Regions from separate parts of the Homo sapiens genome. Here regions 1, 2, 3 and 4 are each linked to region 5. The links come from fine-mapping of genetic effects on gene expression. A gene starts in region 5. Each other region holds a variant in brackets. All regions are shown on one strand. Distances are between the middles of the regions. Region 1 has its middle 23 kb from the start of ADGRL1. Region 2 overlaps ADGRL1 (adhesion G protein-coupled receptor L1). Region 3 overlaps ASF1B (anti-silencing function 1B histone chaperone). Region 4 has its middle 45 kb from the start of LINC01842. Region 5 holds the start of ADGRL1 (adhesion G protein-coupled receptor L1).

Evidence for each region.
Region 1: its variant is fine-mapped to the expression of ADGRL1 in subcutaneous fat (GTEx, PIP 0.99).
Region 2: its variant is fine-mapped to the expression of ADGRL1 in whole blood (TOPMed, PIP above 0.99). The same link has a PIP of 0.9 or more in T cells and blood mononuclear cells.
Region 3: its variant is fine-mapped to the expression of ADGRL1 in whole blood (INTERVAL, PIP above 0.99).
Region 4: its variant is fine-mapped to the expression of ADGRL1 in whole blood (TOPMed, PIP above 0.99).

What each region holds. Positions count from the first base shown.
Region 1 is chr19:14,226,778-14,231,901 of GRCh38, forward strand. No RefSeq gene overlaps it. Among named protein-coding and RNA genes, the nearest start is that of ADGRL1, 23 kb to the left of the region's middle. The variant C/T (reference allele first, on the strand shown) is at 2,334.
Region 2 is chr19:14,165,664-14,170,663 of GRCh38, forward strand. All of the region lies in intron 4 of ADGRL1 (adhesion G protein-coupled receptor L1), which reads right to left. It overlaps ADGRL1-AS1 (ADGRL1 antisense RNA 1), which reads left to right. Exons shown (of 3, transcript NR_045214.1): 3 at 3,114-5,000. Among named protein-coding and RNA genes, the nearest start is that of ADGRL1-AS1, 31 kb to the left of the region's middle. RefSeq lists an enhancer at 1,788-2,287 and a silencer at 2,158-2,347. The variant C/T (reference allele first, on the strand shown) is at 2,266.
Region 3 is chr19:14,122,727-14,127,850 of GRCh38, forward strand. ASF1B (anti-silencing function 1B histone chaperone) reads right to left here. Exons shown (of 4, transcript NM_018154.3): 2 at 3,396-3,511. Among named protein-coding and RNA genes, the nearest start is that of PRKACA, 7.5 kb to the left of the region's middle. The variant C/T (reference allele first, on the strand shown) is at 2,552.
Region 4 is chr19:14,285,837-14,290,960 of GRCh38, forward strand. No RefSeq gene overlaps it. Among named protein-coding and RNA genes, the nearest start is that of LINC01842, 45 kb to the right of the region's middle. The variant C/G (reference allele first, on the strand shown) is at 3,127.
Region 5 is chr19:14,204,019-14,209,142 of GRCh38, forward strand. It overlaps ADGRL1 (adhesion G protein-coupled receptor L1), which reads right to left and starts at 2,151. Exons shown (of 23, transcript NM_014921.5): 1 at 1,967-2,151. RefSeq lists silencers at 2,765-2,824, 2,845-2,944.

The sequences.
Region 1 (5,124 bases), 23 kb after region 5:
TTTTTTTTTTTGAGACAAGTCTTGCTGTGTCACCCAGGTTGGAGTGCAGTGGCACAATCTCGGTTCACTGCAACCTCCGTCTCCCAGGTTCAAGCAATTCTCCTGCCTCAGCTTCCCGAGTAGCTGGGATTACAAGCACGTGCCACCACACCTGGCTAATTTTTGCATTTTTAGTAGAGACAAGGTTTTGCCATGTTGGCCAGGCTGGTCTCGAACTCCTGACCTCAGGTGATCTGCCCATCTAGGCCTCCCAAAGTGCTGGGATTACAGGCATGAGCCACCACGCCCAGACAAGATTTCATCTTTAGAGGAAGTCAGGCATCCAGATTTTTATGCAAAAATCACCTGAGGTCTGGCACTGGTGGCTCAGGCCTGTAATCCCAGCACTTTGGGAGGCTGAGGGGGGCGAATCACTTGAGTTCAAGAGCTCAAGGCCGCCTGACCAACATGGTGAAACCCTGCCTCTACTAAAAATAGAAAAAAACTAGCTGGGCCTGGTGGCCTTTGCCTGTAATCCCAGCTACTTGGGAGGCTGAGGCAGGAGAATCGCTTGAACCTAGGAGGCAGAGGTTGCAGTGAGCAGAGATCACACCACTGCACTACAGCCTGGGCGACACAGCGAGACGCCATCTCAAAAACAAAAACAACAACAACAACAATGAAAAAGCAGCCTGTATTTAAAAGCTAGCAAGTCATGGGCCGGGCGCGGTGGCTCACGCCTGTAATCCCAGCACTTTGGGAGGCCGAGGTGGGCAGATCACAAGGTCAGAAGATCGAGACCATCCTGGCTAACACGGTGAAACCCCGTCTCTACTAAAAATACAAAAAATTAGCCGGGCGTGGTGGGGGGCGCCTGTAGTCCCAGCTACTCGGGAGGCTGAGGCAGGAGAATGGCGTGAACCCGCAAGGCAGAGCTTGCAGTGAGCCAAGATCGCGCCACTGCACTCCAGCCTGGGTGACAGAGTGGGACTCCATCTCAAAAATAAATAAATAAATAAATAAATAAATAAATAAATAAATAAATAAATAAAAGCTAGCAAGTCATTACAAAATGTTTTTAAAGCCTGCATGGACCAAGCCAATTACATCTGTGGGCTGGATTCAGCTCTGGGGCGGACACAGAGGGAGGGGCGGGGCATTTAGTGAAGGCGATGCAAAGCATCATGGGTGAGTTGGGGACCACATGGGCCAGGGGGTTTGACTAGGTGGTGCCTAGGCGGGTGCCAGCATGTTTGTCGGGGCTGGCGCGGTGGAGGGGGCGTGGTTTAAACTGAACAGGTGTTTTGGGTCTAGGTTGGAAAGGACCTTTGGAGCCACGATAACATTTTTCAATTTTGAAGAAGTCAGTGATAGCTTTTAAACAGCTGAATGACTCAGTCATGCCTGTCTGTCCCCATCCCCCAATCCCAACACCCAGAAAGCTGTGAATCAGGCTTTCTTTGGGGGTGGAGGGACAGTAGATCCATCCATGAAGGAAACAAACTAAACAGCCCCCGTCTTCCAGCGCGCTCACAGCCGCCGGGGAGAGGGGGAAGGTGTCCTTAGTAAGGTTAGGATAGGATGGCAGCCGTGATGGTGGGACCGTGGCAGAGGGTTAGTGGTTGTCTGCAGATATGGGAGCCACTGCTATGTGTTCAATGCACTAAGGATGCAACGACGAACAGGACAGACATGGCCCTGCCTTCAAGGAAAAAGACTGTGAAGGAGGAAGGAAATAAGGAGAGACGGTAATTCCAGGGGGTGATGAGAAAATGTAAAAATTAAAATAGCAGGATGGGGGATGGGGCTCAGATCGGCAGCCTACAGGCCCAGGAGACAGAGCGGGTGGGCAGGAGGATGGAGGATGGGGAGCGGGGGTCCTCAGTGGCTCACAAGCCACCGCTTGCTCCCTGGGACCCAGCAGCCTGGCTGGGCCTCTGTCTCCCCAGAATCACCCTATCACACCAAGAACAAACCCACGGCTGACATAGATTCCTGACTCCGAGCCCAAGCAAGGGGGAGAAAGGGGAGGAAAAAAACACCCATCTGTTCTTCCTCTGATGGAATGTGATTTTTCACCCAGTGCTTAAACCTCGAGCTTCTCCTCCCATTTCCTCTCGGCAGCCGCAGCGAAGCGATATAAATCGCTGTAAATGGGTTTTCCCGGCCGGTTGCCGTGTTGTTTTAATAATGGTTCATTTTCTGCCTGGGGGGAAAAATAGTTGGTAAAGAAATTGAGGAGGGGGGGTTCATTTTGTGTGTGTGTGTGTGATTGTGCGTGTGTGTGTGTGTGTGTGTGTGTCCTGTTGCCTTAGAGAAGATTCCCGAATATTCCACTGGGACACCAAGTGACC[C/T]GTCCAGTTGGGGAATTGGGGAATTGCTGGTCAGAGAACCAGTGCATCCCACTTGCCTGGACAAAAGGGATTCCTTTTTTTTTTTTTTTTTTTTTTTTTTTTTGAGACTGAGTCTTGCTCTATTGCCCAGGCTGGAGTGCAGTGGTGCAATCCCGGCTCACTGCAATCTCCACCTCCCTGGTTCAAGCGATTCTTCTGCCTCAACCTCCTGAGTAGCTGGGATTACAGGCGCCCGCCAGCATGCCTGGCTAAGTTTTGTATTTTAAGTAGAGACAGAGTTTCGCCATATTGGCCGGGCTGATCTTGAACTCCTGACCTCAAGTGATCTACTCACCTTGGCCTCCCAAAGTGCTGGGATTACAGGCGTGAGCCGCCGTGCCTGGCCGAAAGGGATTCATTTGCAAACCTCCTGGGCACATATATTAAGCACTAACTGTGTGCTATGCCTGACTAGGTGCGTGGGATATGTAAATGAATAAATCTCCCAGGCCCTGACCTCTCTGGGGGCTCACATTCTAGAAGCAGAGAGAGCAACATTAAGACATCACTCTGCCAAACTAGGTAATTACAATTGTGGAAACTGCTCTGAGGAGACTGTTGAGTGCCACGGGAATGGAAAACGGATCTTGGCAGGGCTGGGCTGAGCATGGTGGCTCACAGCTACAATCCCAGCACTTTGGGAGGCTGAGGCAGGAGGATCGCTTGAGGCCAGGAGTTTGGGACCAGCCTGGACAACATAGCAAGACCACCAACTCTAAAAAAAAATTTAAAAATTAGCTGGGCGTGGTGGCACATGCCTTCTAGTCCCAGCTACTTGGGAGGCTGAGGCAAGAGGATCACTTGGACCTAAGAATTTGAGGCTGCAGTGAGCTATGATCATGCCATTGTACTCCAGCCTGGGCCACAGAAAAAGATCCCATCTCAAAAAGAAAAGAAGGCTGGGCATGGTGGTTCATGCCTGTAATCCCAGAACTTTGGGTGGCCGAAGTGGGTGGATCACTTGAGGCCAGGAGTTCGAGACCAAACTGGCCAACATGGTGAAACCCCGTCTCTACTAAAAATACAAAAATTAGCCAGGGGTGGTGGCTCATGCCTGTAATCCCACCTACTCAGGAGGAGGCAGGAGAATTCCTTGAACCTGGGAGGCGGGGGTTGGAGTGAGCCGAGATTGTGCCACTGCATTTCAGCCTGAGGGACAGAGTGAGACTCTGTCAGAAGAGAAAGGAAGGAAAGGGAAGGGGAGGGGAGGGGAGGGGAGGGAAGAAGAGATCTTGGCATAACCCAAACCCCCTTCAGAAGGGTCACCCTGGCTGCTACTTTAAGGATAGGCAGACAGAGGGAGTTGTGGGAGGGAAGGCCAGTCAGGTGGAGAGACTTCCTGGGCAAACTTCTGGAGGTTGAAAGAGTGTGATGTGGGCTCTGACCTGGGAGAACAGTCATGGAGCCAAGGATAGTGGGGGCGGGGGATGCTGGGGTCCTGGGGAATGGCGTGGGGAGTGGCCAGAGACTTGAGGACTTTTGTCTTGTTCCTGAGCAGAGTCTTCCATTCCTCCGGCATTGAGACTTTTTTTTTTCTTTTTTTTTTTTTTTTTTGAGACAGGGTCTCACTCTGTTGCCCAGGCTGGAGTGCAGTGGCGTGATCTCGGCTTACTGCAGCCTCCGCCTCCAGGGTTCAAGTGATTCTCCCGCCTCAACCTCCCTAGTAGATAGGATTACAGGCATGCACCACCATGCCAGTTAATTTTTGTATTTTTAGTAGAGACAGGGTTTCACTATGGGTGAACTTGCTGGTCTCAAACTCCTGGCCTCAGGTGATCTGCCTGCCTTGGCCTCCCAAAGTGCTGGGATTACAGGCATGAGCCACCACACCCAGCCAGGCTCTTTTTATAGACAAAGATGTTAGCGTTCTCGCCCTCTCATCTCACAGGGCATGAGGTCTCTCTCCAGCCTCTTGTGTGAAGGCACAGGTCCCATTCACGAGGTCTCCACCCTCCTCATCTCCCATAGGCCCCAATTCTTAACACCACGACCTGGGGGGTTAAGATTTCAACATATATTGGCCAGGCATGGTGGTGCACACCTGTAATCCCAGCACTTTAGGAGGCCAAAGTGAGCAGATTGCTTTGAGCTCAGGAGTTTAAGACCAGCCTGGGCAACATACCAAAAACCCCATCCCTACTAAAAATGCAAAAATCAGCCAGGTATGGTGGTGGGCGCCTGTAATCCCAGCTACTCCGGAGGCTGAAGCTGGAGAATCACTGGAACTCAGGAGGTGGAGTTTGCAGTGAGCCGAGATTGCGCCACTGCACTCCAGCCTGAGCAACAGGGTGATGAGACTCCATCTCAAAAAAAAAAAAAAAAAAAGATAAAAAAGATTTCAACATATAAATTTGGGGGGACACAAACATTCACACCAAAGCACTTGGCTTGCCAAGTCATCTCCCCACCCCAGCCCCATCCGTTTACTCCCTACAGTTGGTTGAATGACAGTCCTCCAAAAATGTACATTCATATCCTAACCCCCAGAGCCTGTACGTGTGATCTTATTTGGACAAAGGGTCTTTGAAGTTGTATTTATGTGAAGAATCCTGACATGAGATCATCCTGAATTAGAATGGGCTCTAAATCTATTAATAAGTGTCCTGGCCGGGTGCGGTGGCTCACGCCTGTAATCCCAGCACTTTGGGAGGCTGAGGCAGGTGGATCACCGAAGGTCAGGAGTTTAAGACCAGCCTGACCAACGTGGTGAAACCCCGTCTCTACTAAAAATACAAAAATTAGCCAGGTGTGG
Region 2 (5,000 bases), 38 kb before region 5:
CTGGTGCTGGGAGGGAGAGAGACTCCAGGAGAAAGAGAGGAGACTGGAGGGGTGTGGTGAGGGGGCGGACCTGGGGCCAGCAGCCCAGGCCTCTCTGAGATGGGGGAGAGGGGAAGACGGGGAGGGGAGCAGCTCAGAGGGACCCTGCCCCACCTCCTTCGGAAGGGATGCTCCACAGACCACTGTAATTTCAAGGCAAAAGGGATCCCTAAAGGCCATGTCCTCCAGCCCTGCCTGCTGCTGCCGGCCTCAGATGGGTAAATTTCCCAAAACTTTCTGGAGAGGAAATGGTCATCCCTAACATCTCACCCTAGAAGCCCCTCAGCAGCAGCACCTCCGCTCCCCCCAATAACAGCCAGTAATGGCCAGCCCCATCCACTAGGGAGTTCTCTGCTAGAAATTACGGAGTCTGTGGAAGTCCCCAGACTGTGCCCCCGCCGCCCGCCGCCCATCTCCCTGGTCCTCTAACCACAACAGCCCAGAAGAAACCCTGACTGCAGCTTTGCAAGTGTGAAAGAAACAGAGAACACGCTCCCCCACCCTTCGCTCCCCCAACCACGAGGCCCGCCCCCGCCCCCTCGCCCTCATTTTTTCATTTTTTGGCAGGCTGCCCCCTCCCAGGGCTGGGGACAGCTGACACCCCTCCCCAGGGCTGGGCCCCCAGCTGGTCAGAGATGGGGATCAGGTTGGGGGTGGGGAGGACTGGTGCTCCATGCTCCAAAACAGCTCTGGGCCTTGGAAACATCAAACCAGAAGGAACTTAAGCCACCAGGAGCCCGAGACATAGGAGAATCTGCTCCCCAAAAGGAAAACAATGGTGTCCCCTCCAGCCCGCCTCCCATGAACCAGAAACATGTTATAAAAGGTACAGGGGAAGGAGGAAGAGAGAGGGGAGAGACAGAGAGAGAGAGAGAGAGAAAGAGAGAGAGAGAGAGAGACAGCTCACCCGGTGCCCCAGTGGGGGAGCCGGGGAAGGGAGTCCCTCCCTCCCCACCCGCCCTGGATGCTTATACACTTCTCCTGAAGGAGGCAAAAGAAGTATGAGAAAAGGCCAGGTCCCCCGAAAGGGCCAGGGACCAGGAAGGAGGGACAGAGAGAGACAGAAACAGCGAGAGAGAGAAAATCCTGCCCAAGCTCAGAGAGGAGCTTCCGTGGGTATCTGGAGGGTGGAGATGCCCGTGGCCGCACCAGGGCTGGTCCCACTGGGAGGACAACCCAGGGTGGGGGATACCGACCGGACCAAGTGTGGGTTGGGGAGAGAAGAAGGGGCCGGGGGAGGGCAGGTCACATAAGTATGGTACAGGTAGAACAAAGTGTGAGTTAGGGGTTAGCATTGGTAACAGTGCGTTTACCTTTCTGCTCCACTTCTACTTTAAGCATCGGAAGAGAGAGAGAAAACAAATTGAAAAAAAAAATGTGCAAGAAAAAAAGAGAAAAAAAAAGAGATTAAATTGCTTTCGTTTCTTTTCTGGCAACACGCCCCCTTTTCCTTTCCTTCCTCGCTCCTGCTTCCCCAACCCCTTCCGTAGCATCAGCTCGGGCCCCCGCCCCCAGGTCCCTTCCTCTGGGGGTGGTCAGGTGGGGTGAGAGGGTGCTGGGGAGACAGTCAGAGGGACGAGGGGGACACACACAGGAGGGAGAAGACACAGAAAGACACAGGGGTGGTAGGGGGGTACAGGCAGGCAGACAGAGCCCTCAGGTGGGAGGGGGCACCCTTGGTGCAAGGCGGGGGCAGGGAGTAGGGAGCCCCAGCTGGGAGGTGGGCTCCGGTCAGAGGGGGCACCAGGGAGTGGTGGGGTGGATAAGCCACTCGGCTCCCTTCCCACCCTGCCTGCTGCCCTCCTGCTAGAACCAGGGGCCCCAGGGGAAGGATTTCAGTGTCTCCCAGGGCCTGGGCCCACCCTCAGCCAAGAAACAGGCTGAACTCCTTCCCCTTTATGCTGGCCTCACCCAGGTCCAGCTGACTTCCCCCAAGCCCTCACAACCCAGAAGAAGCAAACACAGAGAGAAGGTGGCAGAGCCAGACACAGAACGACAGGCAGACGGGCAGTTGCACCCGGGCCCCAGAGAGAGCCAGGGTTGGGGAGACGGAGGCAGAGAGGTGGCGGGGGTGGGGGACACAGACTGGGTGGGACAGCAAGTGGGGGCACAGACACGCTCCCAGGCTCCCCAGGGGCAAGTCTGAGGCTCGGCTTCTCTGCTCAACCCACCCAGGGCCCGGGGGCCCAGGAGCTGGGAGCTCCGCCCTGCCCGCTGCCCTGCGGA[C/T]GGGCGGCACCTAGGGGAGGAAGGGGCGCGGTTAGACTGTGCTCAGCTGCAAAGCAAATCCAGCATTAGTCGGGCTTGTCCACTGTGTGGGAGGGTTCCCACACATCACGTGCCCCCTGCCACCCACCCCTGACCCACCCTCACCAGCACTGGGGTCACCCCCAGCCTCTGAAGCCCTGGGCCAGGTGGCTGCCCAGGCCGCTCCCCCTCTGCATCCCTGGCCCCTCAGGAACTTCTGACTGGAGGGACTGGCTCTCCTGGCCCCTCTCTGAAGGTTCCAGCAGGGAGCTCCGCAGGGGCAGCCTCTGCCTCCCTTCCCAGCGCCTCACCCAGGGCCTGGCACTCAGGAGATGCTCAGTGAACATTTTGGGGACAAGTGAGTGCCTGGCCTCCCTGTCCTCTAGCTACCTCCTGTCCCCGCTTTAACTCCAGCCTCCTTCCTCTGGAGCATCAGGAGTTAGCTCTGCCCCCAACATCCACCCCGTATGTGTGCACACATGTCTGCGCGTGTGTGTGTGTGCGTGTGTCTCCTGTCTCCCCAAGGGCTCAGGCTATCTCTCTTCCATCAGACAGGCAGCCACTCATCCTCTGAACTGTCCTGCCCTCTGTCCCTGGAGCCTGCCTGGTCTCTGTCGGTTGTAGCCCCTGGACCACGCTCAGGGCCTCGGCTCCAGGAGGTTTCTCAGCTCCTCTCCTCCCCTAGCTTCTTTCCTGCGGCTTGACCTGAGCCTCTCGTCTACTTGCTTTGGCTTCCACCTGGACCGAGGAATTTTTCCTGCCCTTTATCTCACCTGCCTCGGGAGAAGTTGGGTCATTATCCGTTGTTATTTTAATTTTGATTACCACAGCAATAATCGTAATTGACAAGAGGCATTACAAGGAGCTGCAACAAAAGCAACGACTACCAAGTGTCCAGCACTCACGAGGGGCCAGCAACTATGCTACGCACCTCACTGGCCGTCTTTTGAGAACCCTGTCTACAGATGGGAAAACTGAGGCACACTGAAGTGAGGCCACATGGCTGGCGAAAGCAGGCACCATTTCCTTTGCATCTACAGCTCGGGTGCACACAAGCTTGACATGCGTTGTCGCTACTCCTTGTGGCTTCCCAGGGAAGGCTTTTGACCCCTCTCCACCCCATCACAGATGAATAAACAGGCTCAGCTGGCTTAAAGGGCATTGGTAATATTACTGAGCACATCCTGAACCAGGCATGGGTCTGGGCGCTGGGGCGGCGGGTGAAGACGAAGCCTCTGCCCTTGGGAAGTTTACACTCGGCACTCAAAACCCTGCCACCAGGAGCGACTTTGTGGCCGGCCCTGGGCCAAGCGCTTCTCACATGTCATCTCATGGACTCACACCTCCTTCCGTAGTGGCCCAGAGAAATTAAATCATTTGCTCAAGGTTTCAGAGCCAGAAAACTCAAGAGCCCAGTCGAGCCTTGAACCTACACCCATCTGACTGCCCCCCTGTGCTGAGCTCGCTGCCTCCCACCCCCCTTCCCCGCTGTCCCAGCCGCGGGAGTCAGCCGTGTCCCCAGTGCTGTGGGGAGGCTTCAAGGAGCAGATGGGCATCCCCCTCGGTGGTGGCTGAAGGCCTCAAGCGCTGAAAGGAAAGGACGAAGAGTAAAAGAAGAAAATTACGGAAGCACAGAAGGGATCCTGTTTCCCCAGCATCGAGTCACCTGTGAGGAGAAATCAAAGGCTGGCAGGGAAGGTTGGGGTGGGAGGGGAGAGGAGGGAGAGTTACAGGGCCTCTTAGTCCCCAAACCCGGCCCGCCACACTCAGACACCCTGATGGCCCTGCCTTCTCCCCACTCTTCCCGGAGGCCCTACCACCAGGTTGACTACATGGAACCCATTGTGGGAGGAGAAGGGAAGGGATAATGGGAAGGAGGGAGGGAGGAGAGAGGGCAGGAAAAAGGTGATGTCAAGGGTGGGGTGCTGAGGAGGAGAGACCTTGTCTTTGTCTGATCCCTTTGGCCAGGTGCAAGATGGCCAGGCTCCTGGCTCCCCAAATCACTTTCTTCAGGCTGCCTGGAGGCCACCCTCAGTCCAACATGGCGGCATTTCCTTTGCAGACAGGAAGTGCCACATGGTAATGGGGAGACCAGTGAGGAGCTATGAATCTGTTGAAAATGCCCCCCAGCCCTTCACCCTGAATCTGCCACCAGGCCTCAGAGGATGGTATCCCACTCTATGGGTGTAGAGTCCAGCTTCCATGATTGGGAAGAAGTGTGTGGGGAGTGAGGGTGCTGAGAGAACGGTGTTGAGAGGGGCAGTGGGGTAAGTGAGAGGGAAGAGAAGGTAGATGAGAAGGGTCAGAAAAGGTCAGAAGAGTCAGAAAAGGAAGGGATGTGAGAAGGCGAGGGAGGCAGATGGGGGAGAAAAGCATAGAGGCCAAGGGAGAAGAGAGAGACGTAAGTGTGCCAGGCAGAGCACGGGACCATGGCCTGGCAGTGTGGAAATGAGTATAGGGTGCATGAAGAAGCAGGGTGAGTGGGCTGGGGTAAGGAGAGCTGGAGAAGGTGTCCCCACAGGAGGGGACAGAGTCTGTGAGGCGGGGGAGCAGGCACTGAGTGTGGACACTGGTGTCTGGGATTAGAGAATGTGTGTTGGAGAGAGCAGGCCCGGCTGTCCCCACTGTGCCCAGGCCCCATGCATGTGTGCACATGTGTGATGGGTCAAGGTGTCTCCTCCTCACTCACTCATGCGAGAAGGGCCCGCATCCGCACA
Region 3 (5,124 bases), 81 kb before region 5:
GGGAGAGGTGCGTGGTACTCTGGAGGAGTGTGGTGAGCCGGGGGACAGTGGCATGAAGCTGAACAGGTGAGGCAGGTGGTATCAGGCCACCCGGGGGCCAGCTAAGGGATTGGGAAAGGGCAAGAGAGTAAGCAGGAGGTTAAGTGCCACATCACTCTTGTGATCTGAAAAGAAGCCTCTGGCAAAGTGTGGAGCCGTGACAGGAGACTGTAGTGGAGCAGAAGGCTTACACCAGTCATCCTGGAGAGGCAGTGGACTTGGCTTAGACCAGGCAGTAAAGAACAGATTCAGGGTGTACTACTGCAAACAAGACCAGCCACGTAATTGGTGCAAAATAAAACCAATGCAAAATGAAAACACCACGCCCCTCCAGAAAAGCTATTAGGTTTCAGACGGTGACAGCAGAGTATCGCACCAAGTGTGGGGTCCTGTGCAGCTGCCTGGGTTGCACACCCAGGAGGCCAGTCCTGACTGTTGAGTAGATAGGGCCTGTCAGTGGATTTAGTAGTGGTGGCTGAAGGGGTTAGATAGGATGTGGTAGCTTGGATTAGGGCGGTAACAGCAGTGATGGAGGTAAGGGAGTGTATCCGAGCAGAGGATCCTGAAAAATCACCTGGAGAACTCAGAATCTCCATTTGTTTTTTCTTTCTTCTTTTTTTTTTTTTTTTTTTTTGAGATGGAGTCTCACTGTCACCCAGGCTGGAGTGCAGTGGCGTGATCTCGGCTCACTGCAAGCTCCGCCTCCCAGGTTCACGCCATTCTCCTGCCTCAGCCTCCTGAGTAGCTGAGACTACAGGTGCCCGCCACCAGGCCTGGCTAATTTCTTGTATTTTTTAGTAGAGATGGGGCTTCACCATGTTAGCCAAGATGGTCTCAATCTCCTGACCTTGTGATCCGCCCACCTTGGCCTTCCAAAGTGCTGGGATTACAGGCGTGAGCCACTGCACCGGCCTTCTTTTTTTAAAGAGATAGCTTTTCCCTCTGTCATCCAGACTGGAGTGCAGTGGTGCAATCACAGATCACTGTAAACTCCTGGAACTCCTGGGCTCAAGCGAGCCTATTTTTTTTTTTTTTTTTTTTTAGAGACAGGGTCTCACTCTGTTGCCCAGGCTCGAGTGCAGTGGCGCAATCTCAGCTCACTGTAACTTCCGCCCCCTGGATTCAAATAATTCTCGTGCCTCAGCCTCCCGAGTAGCTAGGATAACAAATGTGCACCACCACATCCAGCTAATTTTTGTATTTTTTAGTAGAGACAGGGTTTCACCATGTTGGCCAGGCTAGTCTTTAACTCCTGACCCCAAGTGATCTGCCTGCCCCAGCCTCCCAAAGTGTTGAGATTACAGGTGTGAGCCATGGCACCTGGCCTCAAGTGAGTCTTCTGCTTCAGCCTCCCTAGTAGCTGGCACTACAGGCCTGCATCACTATGCCTGGTTAATGTTTTTTTTGTAGAGACAGGTCTCGCTGTCACCCAGAATGCAGTGCAGAGGTGCAATCATAGCTCGCTGTAGCCTCAAACTCTCAGGCTCAAGCAAGCCTCCTGCTTCAGCCTCCCAAGTAGCTGGGACGACAGGTGCAAGCCACCACACCCGGCTAATTTTTCTATTTTTTGTAGAGATGGGGGTCTCGCTATGTGGCCCAGGCTAGTCTGGAACTCCTGGCCTTAAGCAGTCCTCCCGCCTCTGCCTCCCAAAGTGCTGGAAGCCACCACACCCGGCCAGAATCTACATTTGACAACCCAGGTGGGGTGCTGCATGAGAGCCATTTAGGAGTTACAGTCCATCCTCATTATTCATGGGTTCCATATGTGCAAGTTCACCTACCTGCTAAGTTTATTTGTAACCCCAAGATGAACACCTGCTTGCTTTCACAGTCACTTGCAGACATGCACAGAGCAGGGAAAAACTGGAGTTACCTACCATGCCTGTTCCCACCTAGAGTTACCTACCACGCCTGTTCCCACCTGAGGTCAAACAAGGCAACACTCTGTCTTCTGGTCTCAGCTCTCACTGTGAATGAGCGTCCTTTCCTCAGCCTACTTAGTGCTTTTTTCCATGTTTTGTGCTTTTTGTTGGTGAGTTTGCTGTCTATGATGGCACCCAACGGTAGTGCTGAAGTGCAGTGTAGGATACAAGAAAGGCTTTATGGAAAATATGCGTATTAGAGAAGTTTCATTCAGGAGAGTTATAGTGCTGTTGGCTGTGAATTCAACATAAATGAACCACTGTATATATTAAATAAGGTATCTTTCCTTTTTTTCTGAGACAGAGTATCGCTGTATCACCCAGGCTAGAGTGCACTGGTGCGATCTCAGCTCACTGCAATCTCCATCTCCCAGGTTCAAGCGATTCTCCCGCCGCAGCCTCCCGAGTAGCTGGGATTACAGGCATGCGCCACCACACCTGGCTGATTTTTGTATTTTTAGTAGAGACGGGGTTTCATCACATTGGCCAGGCTGGTCTTGAACTCCTGACCTCAGGCGATCCACCCACCTCAGCCTCCCAAAGTGCTGGGATTACAGGTTTGAGCCATCATAGCCGTCCTGGTGTCTTTT[C/T]AACATAAACACACATACAAGTTTACGTATTAACCAGCTGACGAAAATGTGACTTCCAAGAATCTAACCCTGTATTTCCCCTGGGGCAATGGTTCAGTATTCACTAATTCAGTGTTCGCGGCAACTTTATAGAACGTAACTCTTGTAAATAATGGGAATTGCCTGTAAATCAGTGGCAGCTTTGACACAGAGGTGGGGGAAGGGAGGGCCTGACGGCCTCTGAGAGGTCAGATAGTTCCTGACAGTAGAACTAGGATTTGAACCTGAACTTTTAAATTGTTTTAATTGATTGATTGAGACTGGGTCTTACTGTTGCCCAGGCTGGAGTGCAGTGGTGTGGTCTTGGCTCATTGTAGCTTCCATCTCCCAGGCTCAAGTGATCCTCCCATTTCAGCCTCCCAAGTATCTGAGACTACAGGCGCACACCACCATGCTCTGCTGATTTTTACATTTTTTGTAGAGATGCGGTCTCACTATATTGCCCCAGCTGGTCTCAAACTCCTGGCCTCAAGCAATCCTCCCACCTCGGCCTCCCAAAGTGCTGGGATTACAGGTGTGAGCAACTGTGCCCGGCCTCTATGTTTTTAATACTTGTTTTTTTCTTTTTTAGAGACAGGGTCTCACTGTGTTGCCTAGGCTGGAGTGCAGTGGCTCACTGCAGCCTCAGACTCCCGGGCTCAAGCAATCCTCTCACCTCAGTCCCTGGAGTAGCTGGGTCTATAGGCGTGAGCCCGTGCCCAGCTGAACTTGAACTTTTGATTCCTGAAGCACTCTGTGGGATTTCAGGTAAAAGAGGATGTTTCTAGGAATCAAGGGCTAAGGCCTAAGGCCTCATCTTTCTTACCTGAAAGACAAACATGTGTCTCCCTGCTGGCACAGGGCCCACCAGCACCGAGTCTAGGATCTGATCAAATTCCTCACTCTCAGCCGAGCCAACATAAATGATCTTCCACTCCAGGTCTGCAAAGATATAGGAGGGTTAACTAATTGAAATAGCTCAACAGCAAGAAGGCAGGGATAGGCTCTTGTATTTTTTTTTTTTTTTGAGATGGAGTCTCGTTCTGTCACACAGGTTAGAATACAGTGATGCGATCTCAGCTCACTGCAACTTCCGCCTCCCAGGTTCCAGTGATTCTCATACCTCAGCCTCCCGAGTGGCTGGGATTATAGGTGCCCGCTGCCACGCCTAGCTAATTTTTTTTTTCTTTTTTGAGATGGAGTTTCACTCTTGTCACCCAGGTTGGAGTACAATGGTGTGATCTTGGCTCACTGCAATCTCTGCCTCCCAGGTTCAAGCGATTCTCCTGTCTCAGCCTACTGAGTAGCTGGAATTACAGGCACCTGCCATCATGGCTGGCTAATTTTTTTATTTTTAGTAGAGACAGGGTTTCACCATGTTGATCAGGCTGGTTTAGAACTCCTGACCTCAGGTGATCCACCCGCCTTGGCCTCCCAAAGTGCTGGGATGACAGGTGTGAGCCACTGTACCTGGCCTGTTTTTGTATTTTTAGTAGAGATGGGGTTTCACCATGTTGGCCAAGCTGGTATCCAACTCCTGACTTCAAGTGATCTGCCCGCCTCAGCCTTCCAAACTGGTGGGATTACAGGTGTGAGCCACTGCGCCCGGCCACATCTTCTATTTTATTTTTATTTACTTATTTTTTGAGACAGTCTCCCTCTGTTGCCTAGGCTGGTGTGCAGCGGGATGTTCATGGCTCACTGTAGCCTCAACCTCCTGGGCTCAAGCGATCCTCCTGCCTCGGACTCCCACCATGTTGGGATCACAGGTGTGGGCTGCTGTGCCCAGCCTTGTGGTAATTTTAGACAGATCCTTAATATGTTAAAAGACTATTATTCCATCTGTCAGACACTTAGTGCCAGGCACTGCAGTCTTGAATGCTGAGGTGGGCACAAAGCTCTACCTCCATTAGGGAATTCTGTCTTGTAAGCCTAGCTATGACAGGTGACCTTGACTATACCTCTGGGGAAACCTGGGCCTCTCAAGGCCTGAGCGTGAACTGTATGGCAGAGGCTGAATTAAGAGCCACGTGACACAGACGTGCTGAGAAGGGAACGGCAGGGAGTTGGGTCATTTCAGGGCCCTGCCCACTGGGTGCTGGGATAGGAAGCAGCATCCTCTTTCACACACAGGGACCGGTGCCACTCAACGAAGTGGATCCCTCGACAACTGGGGCAGGGTGGCAGATTCCAATCCGGCAGGAGAGCCAGCCTGCAGGAGGGGGAAGGTGAGGTTGCTCAGGGAGCCAGCCACCCTGGTCTTCCAGATCTGGCACCAAGTCATGCCTACTTAGAGACATTTGGGCAACTCAGTCAACAAATGTGGCATCCCGGGGTGATCCTCCAAACACTTTTTTTTTTTGACAGTTTCACTCTTGTTGTCCAGGCTAGAGTGCAATGGTGAGATCTCGGCTCACTGCAACCTCTGCCTCCCGGGTTCAAGTGATTCTCCTGCCTCAGCCTCCTGAGTAGCTGGGATTATAGGCGCCCGCCACCACAGCCGGCTAATGTTTTGTATTTTTAGTAGAGATGGGGTTTCACCATGTTGGCCAGGT
Region 4 (5,124 bases), 82 kb after region 5:
CAGTTACAGTTTATCCACCTAAGATCACATTCAGGCCAGGCGCAGTGGCTCGTGCCTGTAATCCCAGCACTTTGGGAGTCCGAGGTGGGAGGATTGCTCAAGGCCAGGACCTTGAGACCAGCCCGGGAAACATAGCAAGAATCTCTCTCTGCAAAAAAATACAAAAATTAGCCAGGCACGGTGTTGCGTGCCTGTGGTCCCAGCTACTTGGAAGGCTGAGGTGGGAAGATCACTTGAGCCTGGGAAGTCGAGGCTGCAGTGAGCCAAAATCATGCCATTGCTCTCTGGCCACCCTGAGTGACAGAGCAAGACCATGTCTTTAAAAAAAAAATAAGTTGGCCAGGCGTGGTGGCTCATGCCTGTAATCCCAGCACTTTGGGAGGCCGAGGCAGGCAGATCATCTGAGATCAGGAGTTTGAGACCAGCCTGGCCAACATGGGGAAAGCCCGTCTCTCCTAAAAATACAAAAATTAGGCGGACGTGGTGGCAGGCGCCTGTAATCCCAGCTACTCAGGAGGCTGAGGCAGGAGAATCGCTTGAACCCGGGAGGCGGAAGTTGCAGCGAGCCTTGATTGCGCCACTGCACTCCAGTTGGGAGACAAGAGCAAGACTTCATCTCAAAAAAAAAAAAATAATAATAATATAAAAACATCACATTCACAGGTTGCAGGGGCCAGAGTGTGGACACATCCTTTTGGGGGGCCACCATTTGACACACTATATTCCCTCCTGGAGCTGCAGCCCTGGCCGTGAAAGGAAAGGAGAGGAAAGCAAGAAGGAAGGGGCCCTAGCACCACCCAGACCCCCAGAACATGACGCTGGTGGGGATGGAGGAGAGGTAGAAGGAAATAGGATTGAAGTCTAAATCAAGGCCCCAGCTTGGGTCTGGACATTCCTTGTTTTGAATTGAAGCCAAGCTGCCCTGTGACTAAGGCGACTCCAGGAACATCTGTTATCTGAGATGAACAGAGAACAAAGTCATAAGGCTAAGATTTTATCAAGGGGATTGCGGGGCAGGGGGGACACATTTCCCTGTGAAAAGCATGTTATAGAGATCATGACAGATCAGCCCTTGACCGGAATTCACACAATGCTGGTTCATTTCATCACAGGGACCACCTGACCCCCAGGATTGTTCTAGAAGGTCTTTTTCTCTACCATCTCCACACCAATCCCTCTCCACCTGCCGCTCCCACCTTCCACTGGGTCCCCATCCTCCTCTGGGCTGGGGCCCTGCCTGCCTGCCATCCATTCACTCAACAAACACTTATTATTATTATTTTTTGAGACACAGTCTCGCTCTGTCGCCCATGCTGGAGTGCAGTGGCACGATCACTGCTCACTGCAGCCTCTGCCTCCCAGGTTTAAGCAATTCTCATTTCTCAGCCTCTCGAATAGTTGGGATTACAGGCATGCATCACCACACCTGGATAATTTTTGTATTTTTAGTAAAGACGGGGTTTTGCCATGTTGGCCAGGCTGGTCTTGAACTCCTGGGCTCAAATCTGTCCGCTTGGCCTCTCAAAGTGCTGGTAGTTACAGGTGTGAGCCACTGCGCCCAGCCCTAACACTTATTGAGCACCTGCTGTATGCCAAGGGCCAGGGAAGGGGGCGGCATACAGAGCCAGGAGGGAACAGTGTGGAGGAACTTCCCTTTTGGAGCTGACTTTCCAGTGGGAGACCTGGGCGATGACAAGATGAACAAGGAATGAATATTCTGTGTTGTAGCCAAAAGCAGCCAGTGCAATGGAGAAAATACAGCAGCCTCAGGCCTGTAATCCCAGCACTTTGGTAGGCCGAGGCGGGCGGATCACTTGAGGCTAGGAGTTCAAAACCAGCCTGGTCAGCATGGCAAAACCCTGTCTCTACTAAAAATACAAAAATTAGCCAGGTGTCATGGAGCATGCCTGTAATCCCAGCTACTCGGTAGGCTGAGGCAGGAGAATCACTTGCACTCGGAGGTGGAGGTTGCAGTGAGCTGAGAGCACGCCATTGCACTCCAGCCTGAGCAACAGCGCGAGACCCCGTCTCAAAAAAAAAAAAAAAAAAAAAGCAATAAGAGTCTGTGGATGTTGTAAATTGGGTGTGTGTGCATCAGAGAAGGCTTCCCTGGGGAGGGGCACAAGTGAAGGGAGACCTGGAGGAGGTGAGGGAGGAGCCATGTGGATATCTGGGGAGGATGACTCAGGCAGAGGGAACAGCCTGTGCAAAGGCCCTGAGGCAGGATGTCTTTGGTGAGTTTGGAGAACAGTAAGGAGGCCCATCTGCTTGGAGAAAGCTGGGTTTTCTGGCCTCCGTGAGGACTGGAGTTTTGCTCTGAGTGAGGCAGTTGGTAAGGAGAATAATGCCCTCCTTCCCAAGGTATCTACTTCCTCATCCTAAACTTTCAAGATCTCATGGCCTGGGGAGGATAGGAGAAAGGGGCTGGTAACTGCTCCAGCGGGTTGATAAACATGGGTACTTCAGGGAGGCTTCCTGGAGGAGTGTCAAGCATATGACTGGCTTGAATTGCGGGAGAGGCAGGCTGAGCAGGGAGCAGGTGCCCAGGGAGAGGCAGAAGACAGGTCAGACACTTAAAAGTGTCTAAAGGAGAAAGACTCCTTTGGACACAGCCAGGCCCTGAGAAGCAGGGTTAGTGAATTGCTACCTCATGCAACAAAAGGGACTTTGCTGATTAGGTAATTAAGGATCTTCAGACAGGGAAATGACCTTGGATCATCTAATCACACAAGTCCTTAAAATGCAAGGGGGCGGCAGAGGGGAGTTGAAGGCTGTCATATGAGAAGGACTTGACTCGTCATTGCTGGCTTTGAAAATGGAGGGAGGGCCCACGAGCCAAGGAATGCAGGCAACTTCTAGAAACGGGGAATGGACAACCAGCAAGAAAACAGGGCCTCAGTTCTACAACCCCAGGGAACTGAATCTTGCACCCCTAAATGAGCAAAAAATAGATCATCCCCTAAAACCTCCAAGAAAGGACTGCAGCCTGCTGACATCTTGGTCTTAGGCAGGTGAGACCCTGAACCACATCTCTGACCTCTAGAGCTGTAGGATAATTTGCGTCGTTAAATAAATGCTAGCTAGTGACGGCAACCATGGGAAATTAACACAAGGTGGGAGCTTTCC[C/G]GGTTCTGAGCGGGAGGAGGGGGCGTGGCCTGATCAGGTGTTCGCTCGCGCCCTCTGGAGGCTGCGGAGGGAACAGGCTTCAGGGCCAGGCTGGAGACCTGAGCAAGGGTAGAGGGAACTGCACAGTCCAGGTGAGGGATGCTGGGCTGGACCAGGTGAGGGATGCTGGGCTGGACCAAGTGAGGGCCGGGGAGGTGGGGAAGAAATGAAGTCCGAGGTTTGAACGTGGATGGAAAGAGAAAAAAAGAGAGGACTCCAGCGGGGCACGGTGGCTCACGCCTGTAATCCCAGCACTTTGGGAGGCCAAGGTGGGAGAATCACTTGAGGTCAGGAGTTCGAGACCAGCCTGGCCAACACAGTGAAACACCGTCTGTACCAAAAATACAAAAAATAGCCAGGTGTGGTGCTGCACGCCTGTAGTCCCAGCTACTCAGGAGGCTGAGACAGCAGACTTGCTCGAACCCGGGAGGCGGAGGTTGCAGTGAGCCTAGACTATGCCATTGCACTCCAGCCTGGAAGACAGAGTAAGACTCCATCTAAAAAAAAAAAAAAAAGAGAGAGAGGACTCGAGTCAAGGATGACCAGAAGCCTCTGAGCTGGGAACTTGGAGTCTCCTGTTCCCTCCACCCCAACTCCACTAGTCCCTACCTCCCCTTGGCCTCACCTGCCAGCAGTTGTCCCAGGCGGAGGCCACATGCTTCCCTCTCCTCTGAGGCCTTGCCCCTGCCTGTGACCTCTCACTTGTCATATCTGCTGTCTCTGTTCTCAAGACAGGAAGTCAGATGGGAGTTGAAGACGGCTGGGACCTGTGAGTCCCCAGGCCCCCAGAGGGATTCCGGATTTGAGAGTCGGCCTCCTCCCTCCCATCCAAGCCCAGCCCTGCCAAATCAGCTCCCAGCTCACTCCCTGGTCTGCACCTCTTTCTCTGTCTCTTTCTCTCTCTGGAATTTTCATTCTCTTTTTGGTAACCGAATTATCCCATCTCCACCTCTCACTGGGGGCCGCCCGCAGAGGCGTGGGCGAGGAGGGGCCCGGGTCGCAGCGCGAGATATTAAACCATCAATCACCCGCCAACGCCGACTCCCCCGCACCAGGACCCTCCATTGGCTCCACCTGGAAGCAGACCAGCTCCAGTGCAGGCCTGGAGGCCTGGGGACCCCATCAAAATGGGAGGCCTTGGAAGAATCTCACAGGCCCTGCATCTACCTGGGCAGGTGCCTGGGTGCAGATCGGCCTGGCTCAATGCACAGACAAGGTGTCCTGGGTTCAAATCCACAAGCTACTTCTTATCCACACGTGGGAGCCACTGCATTGTTCTGTGTCTTGGTTTCACCACCTGTAAAATGGTGATAACAGCCGGGCATGGTGGCTCATGCCTGTAATCCCAGCACTTTGGGAGGCTGCGGCAGGCAGATCACCTGAGGTCAGGACTTCGAGACCAGCCTGGCCAACATGGCAAATATATAAAAATCTCTACTAAAAATATAAAAATTAGCCAGGTGTGGTGGTGTGCCCCTGTAATCCCAGCTACTTGGGAGGCTGAAGCAGTAGAATCACTTGAACCCAGGAGTCAGAGGTTGCAGTGAGCCGAGATTGCACTACTGCACTCCAGCCTGGGGGACAGAGCGAGACTCCGTATTTAAAAAAAAAAAATGGTGGTAACATTTTCTACATCATTGGGGTTCACTGTCAGGATTAAACCAGTTAAGGCAGATGGCAATATCTGGCTGATAGTAAGTCCTGTCTAGGATTTGCTGCTAGAATGATTTTCCTTCAAGATTGGGGGGGGGTCATTCACTTGTGAAAGAAATCCAAGATTCTGGCTTTTGAGGGGACTTAATGGGGTTCATACTTGTGTCACCTCACAGCTGCTGCCTTGTATAGGTTGGAATTGGATTTTTTTTTTTTTTGAGATGGAGTCTCGCTCTGTCACCCAGGCTAGAGTGCAGTGCACAATCTTGGCTCACTGCAACCTCCGCCTCCCAGGTTCAAGGAATT
Region 5 (5,124 bases):
GCACACGTATGTGGCTCCGTGCACGGGTGCGATCGCTGCCAGCCATGGAATTAGTTCCCTTTTCCGAATTCCAGATGATTTTTCATCTCTGTAATTAATGGGCAAGTCAGTTCTGAACGGCATGGCAGACAAATTGCTAGTTAGGAAAATCACGGATAATTTTCTCGATATGATAATGAAGGTTGTAATCCTTCTCTTATTCTCCCTGTTTTCATCCTACTTTTAAGTAATAAATTTGGCATTAGTGGGAGGGGAGCAGGGAGGAAGGAGAAGTCACCTGCCCCCCAAAGCTGGGGCCTGACAGGGACCCACGCAGAGTCCCCTGCCGGGGGCAGACAGGAGAAGAGAATGAGGGGTGTGGACCCTCCGTGGGGTTGATCAATTCAGGGGGCCAGGCCCTGGAGAGCAGGTGGAGGGCACGGAGCTTTCAGGCTGTGAGCCAGGGTGAAGGAGTGGGGTCTGGGGTCAGGTTAGACTCATGCCAGCCCTTGGGGTGTTGGAGAGAGAAGCAGAAACCAATGGTCTGTCCCCAAACAGCATGGAGGTCAACGGCCCGGAATAGACATTCACCCTCAGGTGTGCCCCACTGGATCCGACCTCCTCTAAGCAGTGACTCCCTACCAGGATAAGGGAGCCGGGCAAGCAGAGAGGGGAAGAGAGAAAGACAGAGAGAGATAGAGAAAGACAGAGAGAGTGAGAGAGAGAGAGAGAGAGAGAGAGAGACAGACAGAGAGAGAGAGAGCGCGCGAGCCAGCCATCTTGGCAGCCATTTTGAACCCCTCCCCCTCCTGCCCCCAGGCACACATGTTGGGAAGTGGGATGTGGGAAGACAGACCCCAGCTCTGAGTCCGGTGGAAGCCAGGCGGAAGGGGGGGCCCTGCCTGGAACTGGGATACAGAAACACCCACGCAGCTGGCATGGCTGGGGGTGGATGGGGGTTGGAACAGGAAGAAAGGGTCCAGGCAGGTACAGTGAGGTGTTGGCCAGGGATGGGGCAGTGTGAGGACCCGGACTGGAAGTGTAGAGACAGGGGTGTGTGTAGCCAGCGGCTGTCTTCAGATGGGGGCCAGGGGTGCACTGGAGAGATACCTGGGAGGGCATTTTCTGGACACGGCTGGAGCAAACACAGCATCCCCCCACCCCACCACTTCAGGCCTGGACTCGGGTCCCAGGACCGTCAGATGGGAGGATGACAACCAAACCCTCGCAGCTCAATCCAATGCGCACCTGGGGTGGGGGTGGGGAGCTGTCCTCAAAGCACGAATAATCCGAGTGGATCAAACCTGCCGGCCTCCCGTGCTTTAACCCGGCACCACGGAGAGAAGGTGCTGCCCGGCTGCACCCCCTCCTCCTGACAGCGGCGCCCCCCGGACTGCGGCCGGCTGGACACCCAGACGGACCCCTCCCCATCCCCCGCGCCACTGCCTCCCAGAGAAAAACAACCCCCTCGCCCAGCATCCTGTGGTGCCAGCCCCCGACACGGCTCCTCTGGGGCGCGGGGCCGGCGCGCGGCGCGCACACGCACCCCCTCCGCTCACACCCAGACACCTACACAAACAGGGCGCCAAGCACCCGCGCGCACACGCACCGGGGACACGCAGGCACCGCCGCGCCGCTTCCCCACAAAGGCTGGCGCGCGCGCGGGCACACGCAGCCACGCGCGGGCACACTCGCGGTCCCCTCCCCCCGCCAGGCACCCTGCGGTAGCCCGTCCGCACCCCCGCGCCCCGGGCGCTCCGTGGGGGCCGCCCCTCCCAGGCCCCTCGCCAGTGGGGGTGAGGTGCGGGCTGCCCCCGACGCCCCTCCCGCTCAGGTGCGGTGCCCCGCGCGGCTCCCGTGTCCCCTCCCCCCTCGCGGCCAGGACAGGCCCCGGCCTCCCATCCTTCCCGCCTCCCCTCTTCCACGCGCCCCGCACACCTGGCCCAGGTGCGGCTTCGCCCCTCGCCCTGGGCCCGCAGACACTCACCTGTCCAGCGCCTCTCTGGGGTCGGCCCAGCGTGTCTCTCCTGCGGCTCGGCGAACCCGGGCCCCCCGCCCGGCACATCTCCCGGAGCCGGGGCTGGGGGGAAGCGGGTAGGAGGTGGCGGGACGAGGGCGGCCTCCGTGTCCCTTCCTTCCCCTGGCCCAGCACCGCCGCCGACCAAAAATTAGGAAAAAAAAAAAAAAAGAAAAGAAAAGAAAAAAAAGAGGCGGATTACACGGATCCAAAGGCGGCCCCCTCGCGGCGGCGGAGGCTCGGGACTGGGGGCGATCGGGTCTGCGCCCCTCCCGGGGAGGGAGGCGGTGGGGCGGGGGCGGCGTCAGAGCGCCGGGGGCTGGGGCGAGGCGGAGCGCCCCGAGGCGGCGCCGGCAGCGGCCCGCATCTCCCCCGCAGCTCCGCGGCCCCGACGGAGGCGGCACGTGTGCGCCCAGGCGACTTCCCAGCCCCCTCCGACGCCGGCGGTGGACGAGGGGTTAACGGGGCAGCCGGGGCGCCCCTGCAGGCCCCCGCCGCCCGGCGGCGCCGCTCCGGGGCCCGCGCGGCCCCATCAGCCGGGGCCTCCTCGGCAGACGGCGGGGCGGGGGCACCGCAGCGCCGACAGCTCCCGCGCCGACGGCTCGGGCTCCCCGCAGTGGCCGCGGGGAGCTCGGGTTGGGGGCGGGCGGCGCGGAGCTGGCGGAGGGGGGCGGCGCGGCTGGAGGCGGGTGCCGCGGCGTCGCGCCCCCGGTGCGGCCGGAGGGGGGGCGCCGGGCCGGGCCCGTGGGCACCGCAGGACGCGCGGACCGAGCCGGCGCCGGGCACCAGCAATGACAAGCCGCCTGCTCGCCCCGCTCCCCGGCGCACCCGCTCCGGGAGGGGGGCGGTGGGCGCGCGCAAAACCCGGCCCGGAGTCGCCGCCCGGGACTGGCCGCCGCAACCCGCTTGAGCGCCCCAGGAGCCGGCCCGAAAACCCGGGCTGGACTTTCCTTCCTTTCGCCTCCTCTCGCCTCCTCCCTGGAAAAGCAGGGAGAGGGAAAGCGACGTGCTGGAGCCCCGCGTTGGAGCGGGGAGTGGGGGAAGGGAGACAGGCGTAAGGAAGACCCGGAGCGGATTTTCCAGTGAAGTATAAGGAAAGGCGCCGAGCCCGGGGAAGGAGGGCGCAAATGGGGAGATCTGGAAGGGTTGTGCAAAACCCGAGTTGGATTAGATAAAGATGGGAGGAACGGTGTTGGAGCGGGGGGTTGGGGGGTAGATGCGACATGGCCAAATGCACCCGGGGCACGCAAATTTCGGGCCGGATTCTTTCTCGGGAGACGGAGTAATGCGTCAGGCCTAACGCAGTGGAAACAAGCAAGACCCGGCCCGGAACTCCCGGGACCTGGGTTCGCATGGTGGGGGGTTCTGGAAGGGGGATGCTTAGTGGCTGAGGCGACTTGGGCTGCCCTCATCTTCCTGGCAGCGACGTGCAAGGGGGACGGGCAAAAGGAGGACTGGACTCGGGTACGAAGGGATTTGGCGCGCTGGCTGCACCGGAGCGGACAGGTAAAAGCGGTTTCTGGATCCAGGGGCGCTGCGAAGGGAATGCGATGAGGCCGCTACCCTGGGAGACCAGACCTACAATAAAAGGCGAGGGAGGCACGCAAAGCCAGGACTGGAGCGCGGGACGGGATGAGACCCTCAGCAGAAGATCCTGGGCCACCGGGACAGGGGCTTGGAGCTGACCGGGCAGCAGGGGCGGAGGGAAGCGTTAGGGGGAGGTTTGTACCTGTAAACGCCTCAAAGTCTTGCTTTTGGGGAGGGGGTGCGAGGGGAAAAATTGAATTTTATGTTCTCTAAAAGAGTAAAAACCCGGCATGGATTTTCAACACCTAACAACTCCATTGCAGCTGGTGGACTCTAAGAAGTAGGGCAAGAAGCAGGCTTGGGTTCCCAGGCATCAGACCAAGTGAGGCGAGGGGCAGGTTTCGGGTTGAGGCTGCAGAGGGAGCCCCCGCACCCCCTCTCTGGGGTGGGGAAGGCTGTTGGACCCGGCTTGGCTCTCTGGAGAGCGAAAGTTATGACTGCCAAGACCTATAGCTGGGGCTATAAAACTGGGCCCCAAGCCAAAAATAGGCACTTCGGCAGAACAGGCAACTTTGTGCAGGGTGGGGGCTGGAGGGAAATGGAAGTGGGAAGAATCCTGGAGTGGAGGGAACAGGGGGGAGGGGGGGAGTCCCTGAAGCGGGGCTGCTGGCTCCATTTTATGAAAGATGGGAAGACTGATGGCTGGGGAGGGCTTGGAATCCTCAGGGAAGGGAATCCATTCAAGTGAGGCCCAAATGTTAAAGCAGACAGCTCAGAGTTCAAAGTTGGGCTGCATCTTAGCAGCAGGGCAGACAAACCCTGATCTGAGTTTTAGAGGAGGGGGACGGGCTGAGGATGGGGATGGGGGAAACCCCCATTCCCTATATGTCCAGGGAAGAGAGTGCATTGCTAACCATGCGCTTTGCAGAATGAATGAGGAAAGGGAAAAGGGTTCCTGAGTAGGAGTGGTAAATCCACAAAACTTGAGGCATATCTGGATGGGAAAAATGAGTATCTAAGAAAGCCTGAATTGAATATCTGCACGGGAATTAACTTGGCCTCTAAGAATCCCTTCCTAGAAGCACGTCCCTGTGGCTAAACTGGAGGAAGTGCAGGGACACCAGACTTCCAGGCTGCCCGGGTGACCACGCACCACTGCTGTGGCAGCCTGTCACCCTCCACCGCCTTCTACGGACAGCTGTCTCTTCACGACGGGGAAGGGATTCTTGAAAGCCAGAACCTAGGCAAATCTGGCCCCAGAGAACTTCAAAATGGAGGGATGGGTCACTTTCGTTCCTCCTTCATGCCCAGGATTTCATGGCTGCAAAGCTGTCCAGCCTTGAATCTGGGTGGCCAGGTTGGACACCGGGATCTGGGGGACCAAATATAAAGTAGGATTTGGTGAGTGCAAAACGGATCCCATCCATCTGTGGTTGACTGCAGATCCACTGGGTATGGAGGAGGGCATCCCATCTCTCTACGCCTCAATTTCCCAGTTTGAGATATTGACAGCACCAAGTAAGACCCATGAAGGCTTTGAGATGGAGGGCACTCCAGGCAGCCAGCTTTCTATAAACCCAGCAGTACCGAAAAGGGAACAG